Linked DNA regions of Homo sapiens: regions 2 and 3 are each linked to region 1. The links come from fine-mapping of genetic effects on gene expression. A gene starts in region 1. Each other region holds a variant in brackets. All regions are shown on one strand. Distances are between the middles of the regions.

Evidence for each region.
Region 2: its variant is fine-mapped to the expression of ADAMTS14 in cerebellar hemisphere (GTEx, PIP 0.93).
Region 3: its variant is fine-mapped to the expression of ADAMTS14 in monocytes after R848 (Quach 2016, PIP 0.95).

The regions. Positions count from the first base shown.
Region 1 is chr10:70,670,890-70,673,648 of GRCh38, reverse strand. It overlaps ADAMTS14 (ADAM metallopeptidase with thrombospondin type 1 motif 14), which reads right to left and starts at 1,143. Exons shown (of 22, transcript NM_080722.4): 1 at 765-1,143. The coding sequence starts at 846. RefSeq lists a silencer at 2,262-2,556.
Region 2 is chr10:70,568,458-70,571,216 of GRCh38, reverse strand. No RefSeq gene overlaps it. Among named protein-coding and RNA genes, the nearest start is that of PRF1, 33 kb to the left of the region's middle. The variant T/C (reference allele first, on the strand shown) is at 1,607.
Region 3 is chr10:70,741,428-70,744,186 of GRCh38, reverse strand. It overlaps ADAMTS14 (ADAM metallopeptidase with thrombospondin type 1 motif 14), which reads right to left. Exons shown (of 22, transcript NM_080722.4): 13 at 506-639; 14 at 1-121. Among named protein-coding and RNA genes, the nearest start is that of TBATA, 43 kb to the left of the region's middle. RefSeq lists enhancers at 317-1,120, 1,360-1,654. The variant G/A (reference allele first, on the strand shown) is at 1,389.

The DNA of each region.
Region 1 (2,759 bases):
AATCCCCCATGCCCACAGCTCTAGTTTCATCCCCATTATAGCAGAGGACCCCTAAGACTGCTGCAAGAGGGGACCCACTCTGGCACATGAACAAGGCTCACAAACAAGGAGGGACCCTGCCTGGAAATGACCGGTGACTCCTCCCCATGTTCAGAGCCACCAGGAGGGTACCCCATGCTGCAGGGCGGGAGTGGAGTGTATCTGGTCTGTATGCAAGAGACCTGTGTCCACAGCGTTTGACAGTGCTACGTTGGGGGCAGTGGAAGGATGTGTGTTTCTGTGCAGGAGCGTGAGTGCCCCGCATGCTCTGCTGTAGGAGGCAATCACCTGTTAGCCTTATGCTGGGTATGTAACAGCCACACACAGACACACACACACACACACCCCTTGCACCCATGCTCACACAAGTTGGAGACAGAAAAGACATTGAAAGAGAAAGACACACAGGACAGAGAAACAGATTGGGGAAGAGGGGAAAGAAGAAACACAGAGAGACAAAGAGACAGATGCGCTGCTCCCGAGAAGAGACTCGATGCTCCCAAATTCTCTCCTGGGGTCTCTGTCTACTTCTAGTACCAGAAAGGGAGAGAAATCACGGGACAGTGCCGTGGCACAGTGGAAGAAAAGACAGCAAATCAGCCCAGAGTGTGCATACTGCCTCCCACCCGCGGGAACCCTGCCCGGGTGGCTGGGGCAACCTTGGGCCACCCTGACCGCGTGCACCCCGGACCCCACGGGCCCCCGCGCGCCCAACCCGCACGCACCTGGGGTCCGGCTGCCCGCGGCGGCGCAGAGCGCACAGTGCAAAGGCAGCAGGTAGGACAGCAGCGCGCGGAGTGGAGCCATGTGGCCGCGCTGGGACGCGGGCTGGGCAAGCGCCCGATCCCCAAGTCCCAGGCTGAGGGCGGCGAGGCTAGGGTGCGCCCCGGGCTGTCGGAGCACCGGCTGGCTGCCGCCGCTGCCGCCTCAGCCGCCTCCCCGCCTAGCTGCTTCCCTCCCGCCTGCTCCGGGTCCCCTGCGCGGCGCCGCCGCCTGGACCGCTGGCTCCGGGCGCGCGAGGCTGCCGGCTGGAGAGCGGGGCCACTGACGCGCCAGCGCACCCGGTGCCAACTGCCGGCTGGTCGGTCAGCCCGCCCGCGCAGTGACGCTCCGGGACTCCGCGGGAGCCGGGCGACGGGGCGGCGGGACGGGCCGGGGGTGGGCACACTGGGCGGGGCGGGGCCGGGCGCGGGTCGGAGCTGGGGCGCCGGGCGCCCGGGGGCGGGGCGCGCGGCTGGGGAGTGCAGCTGCCTGCGGCCGGGGATCGGAAGTGCCACGCGGAGACAGAGCAGGGGTTCCTGGCGCACGGACCGATTGTCCCCTCAGACGCCTGGGATCCCCGGAGTGGTGGCCCAAAGCCGCTTTCTATGGCTGCTCCGCCCCCTTTCTTGGCCGCAGGGCCTGCTCTCTGTTTCTGTTCCAGAGCCAGGAGCCCAAGGGGTGTCCGGCTGCATTTGGGAGTGTGGTGGACAGTGAACCTCCCGGTAGAGGGAGACTCCCTCTTTCTTTCACTATGGTCTTGATGCCCTCACTAACCATCGACCCCTTGGATCTACCCATTTTCCAGACTCCAGCCCAGGGTGCACGACTGACCTGTGTCCTAGCCAAGAGCAGGGCTGAGCCGGTGAGGAGAGAGCCCTGGCTTCAGAGTCAGACAGCCCTGATTGAAATCCTAGCTCTGAGCCTCAGTTGTCTTATCTGTGAAATGGGTGTTAACTACAGCACATAATAGATGCTCAATAAGTGATAACTGCCCTCCACTTCCATCCCTGACACCAGTAGCAACTGTGGCATCCCAAGGTGGAAAGAACCAAGAGTCTGAGAGATGAGCACTTGATGCTAGTCTTGCAATGGTGTTGAGACCAGGTCAGGAGTCAGTACAAACAACCCAACAGAAGATCCATGCTCTTGCTTTACTCTGTAAATATGTAACTAATAACTTGCAAATAAACTATATTTCAAGCAATCCAGGGGTGGGAGTTGTGGAAAGGAGATTTTTTTGTAATAACCATGGAATAAAGAATCTTGGAAATGATGCCAAGGTTTTGGAGGACCAGTGCATTTAAGAAGCAGGTTCAGAAAGCTAAAGTATATTATATTCCAAGCATTCCAAGCTACATCAGAGCATCCAGTTATTTGGAAATGCCACAACCAAATTGATCTATATTAAATTCAGGAAGAATAGAGTTCCTCTTTCTCCTCTTTCTGGTCTTTTAAGATGTGTGTTGGCTGCGTGCAGTGGCTCACGCCTATAGTCCCAACACTTTGGGAGGCTGAGGCGGAAGGGTTGCTTTAGCCTGAGAGGCTGAAGCTGCAGTGAGCTGAGCTTCAGCTCACACCACTGTACCCAGCCTGGGTGACAGAGCAATACCCTGTCTCAAAAAAAAAAAAAAATGATGTGCAAAGTCAAGGTCCAGACAGGATTCTGTGTGTGAGGGATGACAGAGCAAGAAAGTTAGAGGGTGTGTGTGTGTGTGTGTGTGTGTGTGTGTGTGTGTGTGAGAGAGAGAGAGAGAGAGAGAGGAAAGAGAGAGAGAGATAGGAAAGAGAGAGAGAGAAAGAGAGAGAGAGAGAAAGAGAGAGAGAGAGAGAAGGCTGGGAGATGACCAGGCTGGAGCTTCACAGCTCTGGCCCTCTGCAAACCCAAGCCCACCAAATGATCTCTGGATAAAATGGCTTCCCTTCTCAGGGTCTCAGTTTTCCAAGCTGCAGAGTGGGAA
Region 2 (2,759 bases), 100 kb after region 1:
CACTGTCAGGCACTGTCCTAAAGGTTGCATGTATATTAACTCGTTTTTTAATATTATAATTCAGCAATATGTACTGGTATTTAAGAAAGAGACATAACAAAGAATGTATCAAAACATCACTAGTGGCCAGGCGCAGTGGCTGACACCTGTAATCCCAGCACTTTGGGAGGCCAAAGCAGGTGGATCACCTGAGGTCAGGAGTTTGAGACCAGTCTGGCCAACATGGCGAAACCTTGTCTCTATTAAAAATACAAAAATTAGCTGGGTGTGGTGATGCGTGCCTAAAATCCCAGCTGCTTGGGAGGCTGAGGCCGGAGAATCGCTTGAACCCAGGAGGTGGAGGTTGCAGCGAGCCAAGATCGCGCCACTGGACTCCAGCCTGGGCGACAGAAAAAGATTTCATCGAAAAAAAAAAAAAATCACTAGTTTAGATTAACACAGAGGAAAGATCAGACTAAATGGTACTTTCTTAAAATGAGCTGCTAAGTTGTATATGTTTACGGTGTACAAAAGGATGTCTTGAGGTATATATACGTTGTGAAGTGGCTAAGTCAAGATATTTAACATACACCTTACCTCACATACTTATCATTTGGTGACACATAGCTACCAAGTTACGAGAACACTTAAAATCTTCTCTCTGCAATTTTCAAATACACAACATTGTTATCAACTGTAGTAAGCATGATATACAATAGATCCCTTGAACTTACTCTAACCGAAATGCTGTGAACTTTGACCAACATCTCCCCAACCTCACCCCATTCCACCCCAGCCTCTGGTAACCACCATGTTACTCTGAGTTGGATTTTTTTAGACTCCACATATGAGATCATGTGATACTTGTCTTTTTGTGCCTGGCTTATTTCACTCAGGATAGTGTTCCCCAGGTTCACTCATGTTGTCACAAATGACAGGATTTTTTTTTTTTTTTTTTTTTTTGAGATGGAGTTTTGCTCCATGGCCCAGGCTGGAGTGCAGTGGCGTGATCTCAGCTCACTGCAACCTCCACATCCCAGGTTCAAGTGATTCTCCTGCCTCAGCCTCCCAAGTAGCTGGGATTACAGGCACCTACCACCATATCTGGCTAATTTTTGTATTTTAAGTAGAGACGGGGTTTCAGGTTTCACCATGTTGAGCAGGCTGGTCTCGAACTCCTGACCTCAAGTGATCCACTCACCTCGGCCTCCCAAAGTGCTGGGATTACAGGCGTGAGCCATTGCGCCTGGCCAGGATTTCCTTTTTAAAGGCTGAATAGTATCCCATTGTATACAGACCACATTTTCTTTATCCATTCATCCACTGATGAACACACTGATCCCATGTCTTGGCTACTGTGAATAATGCTGCAGTGAACATGGGGTGCAGACACCTCTCTGACACACGGATTCCATTTCCTTTGCATGTGTACCCAGGAGTGGGATGGCTGGATCATACACAGTCCTATTTTTGGTTTTCTGAGGACCCCCCACCCCAGTGTTTTCCAGAACGTGTATACTAACCGACAATACCACCAACAGGGTGCGAGGGTTTCCTGTCTCCACATCCTCGCCAGCACTTCTCTTCTGTCTCTTCCTGCAGCCATCCTAACAGGTGTGAGGTGGTT[T/C]CCATTGCCTTTCCCTGGTGATTAGTGATACCGGACATTTCTTTCATATGCCTGTGGGTCATTTGTGTGTGTTCTTTTGAGTTACTTGCTTTTTACTATTGTATTGTTTGGGTTTCCTATGGATTTGGGATACTAACCCCTTATCAGATGGATGGTTTGCAAATGCCGTCTCCTATTCGGTAGGCTCCCTAACTCTGCTGATTGCTCCTTTGCTGTGCTGGGTTCACTCATTTACCATGAGGGCTGAGATGCTGCTGACCAGCAGGAGCTACTGAAATGTGGGTCAGTGCCATTCATGTCATTGCTAAGCGTCCTCCCACAGGCTACAGCAGGCCCAGGGGAACTTGGGAACACACACAGGCACACCCACTCACTCCTGTGTGTCCCCACATCCCAGGGAGAGAATGGCAGAGCCACCCCCACCCCCACCCCCCTCCACCCCACCCCGGTGTACACAGCTCTACACTGGTGTCCAGAAGCCACACAGAGCATTCTTGCACCTAGAGAAGACAACTTCCATACCCTGCTGGGCTGGGAAAGAACCCCCGGGGCCTTCTCTCCTAGTCTGGGGAGAACACCAACCCTAGGGGCGGTGGGGGCTCTGGGTTCCATTCTGCCCACCCCAGCTGACCTCGGAACTACAACCTTGTTCCCCTAACCCTGCAAGCATGGGGGAAGAGGCCTGGAGTCAGTGCTGTCTCTACCCCACCCTCCCCACTGACTCTTTAAATGCCAGCACTCAACCAGGGGTGAGGTGTGTTCAATCAACCAGAGGCCCAAAGGGGTCAGGTGGGGCCCACAGGGGTTAGGGGAGAAAGTGGAGGCTGAGATCCAGGCTCCTTCACAGGCCCCCAATTCCACTTTGCTCTATACTGTTTCCCTAGATGCAGCAATCCTTCATATGTTAGTGAGAATTCGCTGGTTCCGTTGCTTTCTTCAAGGAGGAGCTCAGCCTGACATCCAGTGTAAGAGGGTGAGGCAAAACTGGGGATGCGTGTCTGCAAAAACCCGCCTGCTCTAGAGCTGGAAGTGCCAAGAACAGGTGCTCTCAACTCACTCTGCCTGCCCACCCTTACTCTGAAGGGGCAGGGACCTCAGCCTGTTGTACCAGTTCTAGAACGTCTGTCTGACACTAAAGACATATTAGCAGCCA
Region 3 (2,759 bases), 71 kb before region 1:
CCTGCTTGGAGGCCTTGCCCAGCGTCCCCTTCACAGTCCTGCAGTGGGAGTTGTCACCCCCGCAGACTCCACACTTGTCATCCGCCTTCATGGACCCCACCTCCTTGTCACAGCCGACAGGCTGAGGCCAGAGGTGAGGTCAGTGGGAGGAGGCTCCCCTGCCCCCACCGCCACCCCGGGGCTCCCATTCCCATCCCCAGGCCCTGGTCAGGAGAAGACCTCTGGCCTGGGAGATGTCCCTGGACAGGATTCTGGCACGAATTCACCGTGGGACCTGGGTGAGGTCTTACACCCGGCGTGATGAGGATTCTTGCCATCTCCTCTCCCCTCCAATGGGGCTGAGCAATAATTAGCCCCTTCCAGCACCCCAGGGCTATGCTGAGGACCAACAGGGTGTTGCGAGTGGGCCGGTGAGGCAATGCTCATCTTCCCAGGCAGGAGGGGCTACAGTGCAGCCCTCCAGTCTCCCTGTGCCGGTAGTCGGGGTGGCTGGGGGTGCACCCACCACACACTCGCCACGCGCACAGACGCTGTATGGGTCCCGGTAGCTGCAGCGTGTCCCATCGTGAACCACCTGGTTCATGAACACCACGTCCCCCGTGTCCGCCGACTGGCAGATCAGCTCACACTTCTGGGCGTCTGTAGGGAGAGGGACTATGCTGAGTCCCCAGCTGGGCTCAGAGAAAGTGGCCCAGGACAGATCAGTATGTGGTCCAGCCAGAAAGCTCCGGGGCCAGCTCTGGACAGTTGGGGGAGCACTGGGTGTGGCACGGGGGCTGAAAATCCCTGCTGTGTCACTTATTAGCCATGTGACCTTGGGTAAATGCTCTGACCTCTCCCAGCCTTTGTTCCCTATTTTTATTATCCCTAATCAGTAAAATGCCACATCGGCTTATTGAGAAAAATCAAGTGATAAAGTAATAATAAGCCAATGCTTAGTGAATGCTTACTATGTACTAGATATTTCTAAAACCTTCACATGCCCTTAAAATACAGCTTTAATGGCTTTTCATGAATTAACTCATTTAACCCTCTCAACACCTCAATGAGGTAGGTGCTAGCATTACAGAGGAGGAAATTGAGGACCAGAGAGGTTAAGGAACTTGCTCAAGTCCACACAACCACACGATAAGTGGTTCAGCCTGGATTCTAACCTTAGCAGTCTTGCCTGAGTCCTGCTCTGACCCCTACAAAACTTCACTGTGCACATGTATGACATGCGTCTTAACATGTTTGTAAACATTAGAAGGCTGCGTGAAAAAAAGGCAGAAAAGTGGTCTGTATCTGGGTTTGCAAAATGGAGCAACAGTCAGGGAGAAAGAGAGTCCTTTCTGGTCCTAACAATTAAATGTTTCCTTCTTTATGTGGGCTATAGATATCCTAAAAAG[G/A]AGGTTCCAGAGCATATATAAACACTTACTGTGCTTCTTAGAAAAAAGGAAGTTGGGGGCTTAGCTAACTTCCTGGAATTCGTCTAACAGTCCTGGGAAAAACCCAAAGTCCAGCTGCCCCACGGGCCTCCCAGCCCCTCCTCTCCCCAACGCTGTGGCTGCTGGTTTGGTTTCTGAATGGATCTGGAAGGCTTTCAAACCAAGATTCCCTCAGCCAATTACTAAGGAAACTCTTGGGCTCTGCTCTGGTCCCTGGGCTCCAGCACAGCTGGTAACTCCTTGTCTCCAGCATGAAGGACTCAAGTCTGGAGCCACAACCTCCAAGACCACCTTGGATTTCATCCACAGGAACCAGATTCCTGTAGGGACCTGGGTCTGGGGGAGCTCCAACCCAGGACAGGCAGGATCCTGACCCAGGCAGGCAGCTCTCTAGGCAGCAACGGAAGCCACAACCTCCAAGACCACCTTGGATTTCATCCACAGGAACCAGATTCCTGTAGGGACCTGGGTCTGGGGGAGCTCCAACCCAGGACAGGCAGGATCCTGACCCAGGCAGGCAGCTCTCTGGGCAGCAACGGAAGCTCTCTGGGCAGCAACAGTGCGAAGGGAGTGGTGAGCTCCCCAGAGTAGGAGGAATCCAAGCAGAGAGAAGACACCCCCTGCAAGGATGCTCTGGAAGAATCTGGCAATGACAGGCCTCTGAGGTCCCTTCCAACCTGAAGAGTCTGTCATTCTAGACCAGAGCTGAAGAGCTGACAGTTCTGGGGTGGAGCCCAGGCTCCAGGGAGGAAAGCCCGTCCTGATGGGAGCTGTCTGGGCCAAGAGTTGTGTGATGGAGAATGAGCATCTGTCCATGGAGGACCCATGGAGAGGCTGGCAGGGGAAAGCTGGAATCAGAGGATCATTGAGGGCTCTTCCAGCCGAGGCTCTGACTTGCCACGAATCCCAACCCTTCACTGGATGCTCTGCCGCTATGGAGCCATCACTGGAAACACTCAAAAATAGATGGGAACTGGCACCACTATGGTCCCCAAATTCAGACTCTTTACAGGAGTCTAGAAGTCCTGTGTATGTCCCAGGGCAGCCTAGAGAGTCGTTATGAAGATCCCACCAGATCCTATCTGCGTGCCTTCCAAAATCATCTCATCGACTCTGCTGAAACCACAACCCAATCAGTAAAACCTAAAAACACAGCGTGTAATAGGACTGAGCTCCTCAGGACACTGGTCATGCAACGGGAAGGGCGCCTGCACCTATATAATTCTTCTCCCTGCAGGTAGGGACAGAAGACGAAAGGCAGGCAACCCTAACAGCCAACACTGCTGCCGGCCTTGGCAACACCTGTGTGTGAAGTGTCCCTTCCTCAAGACA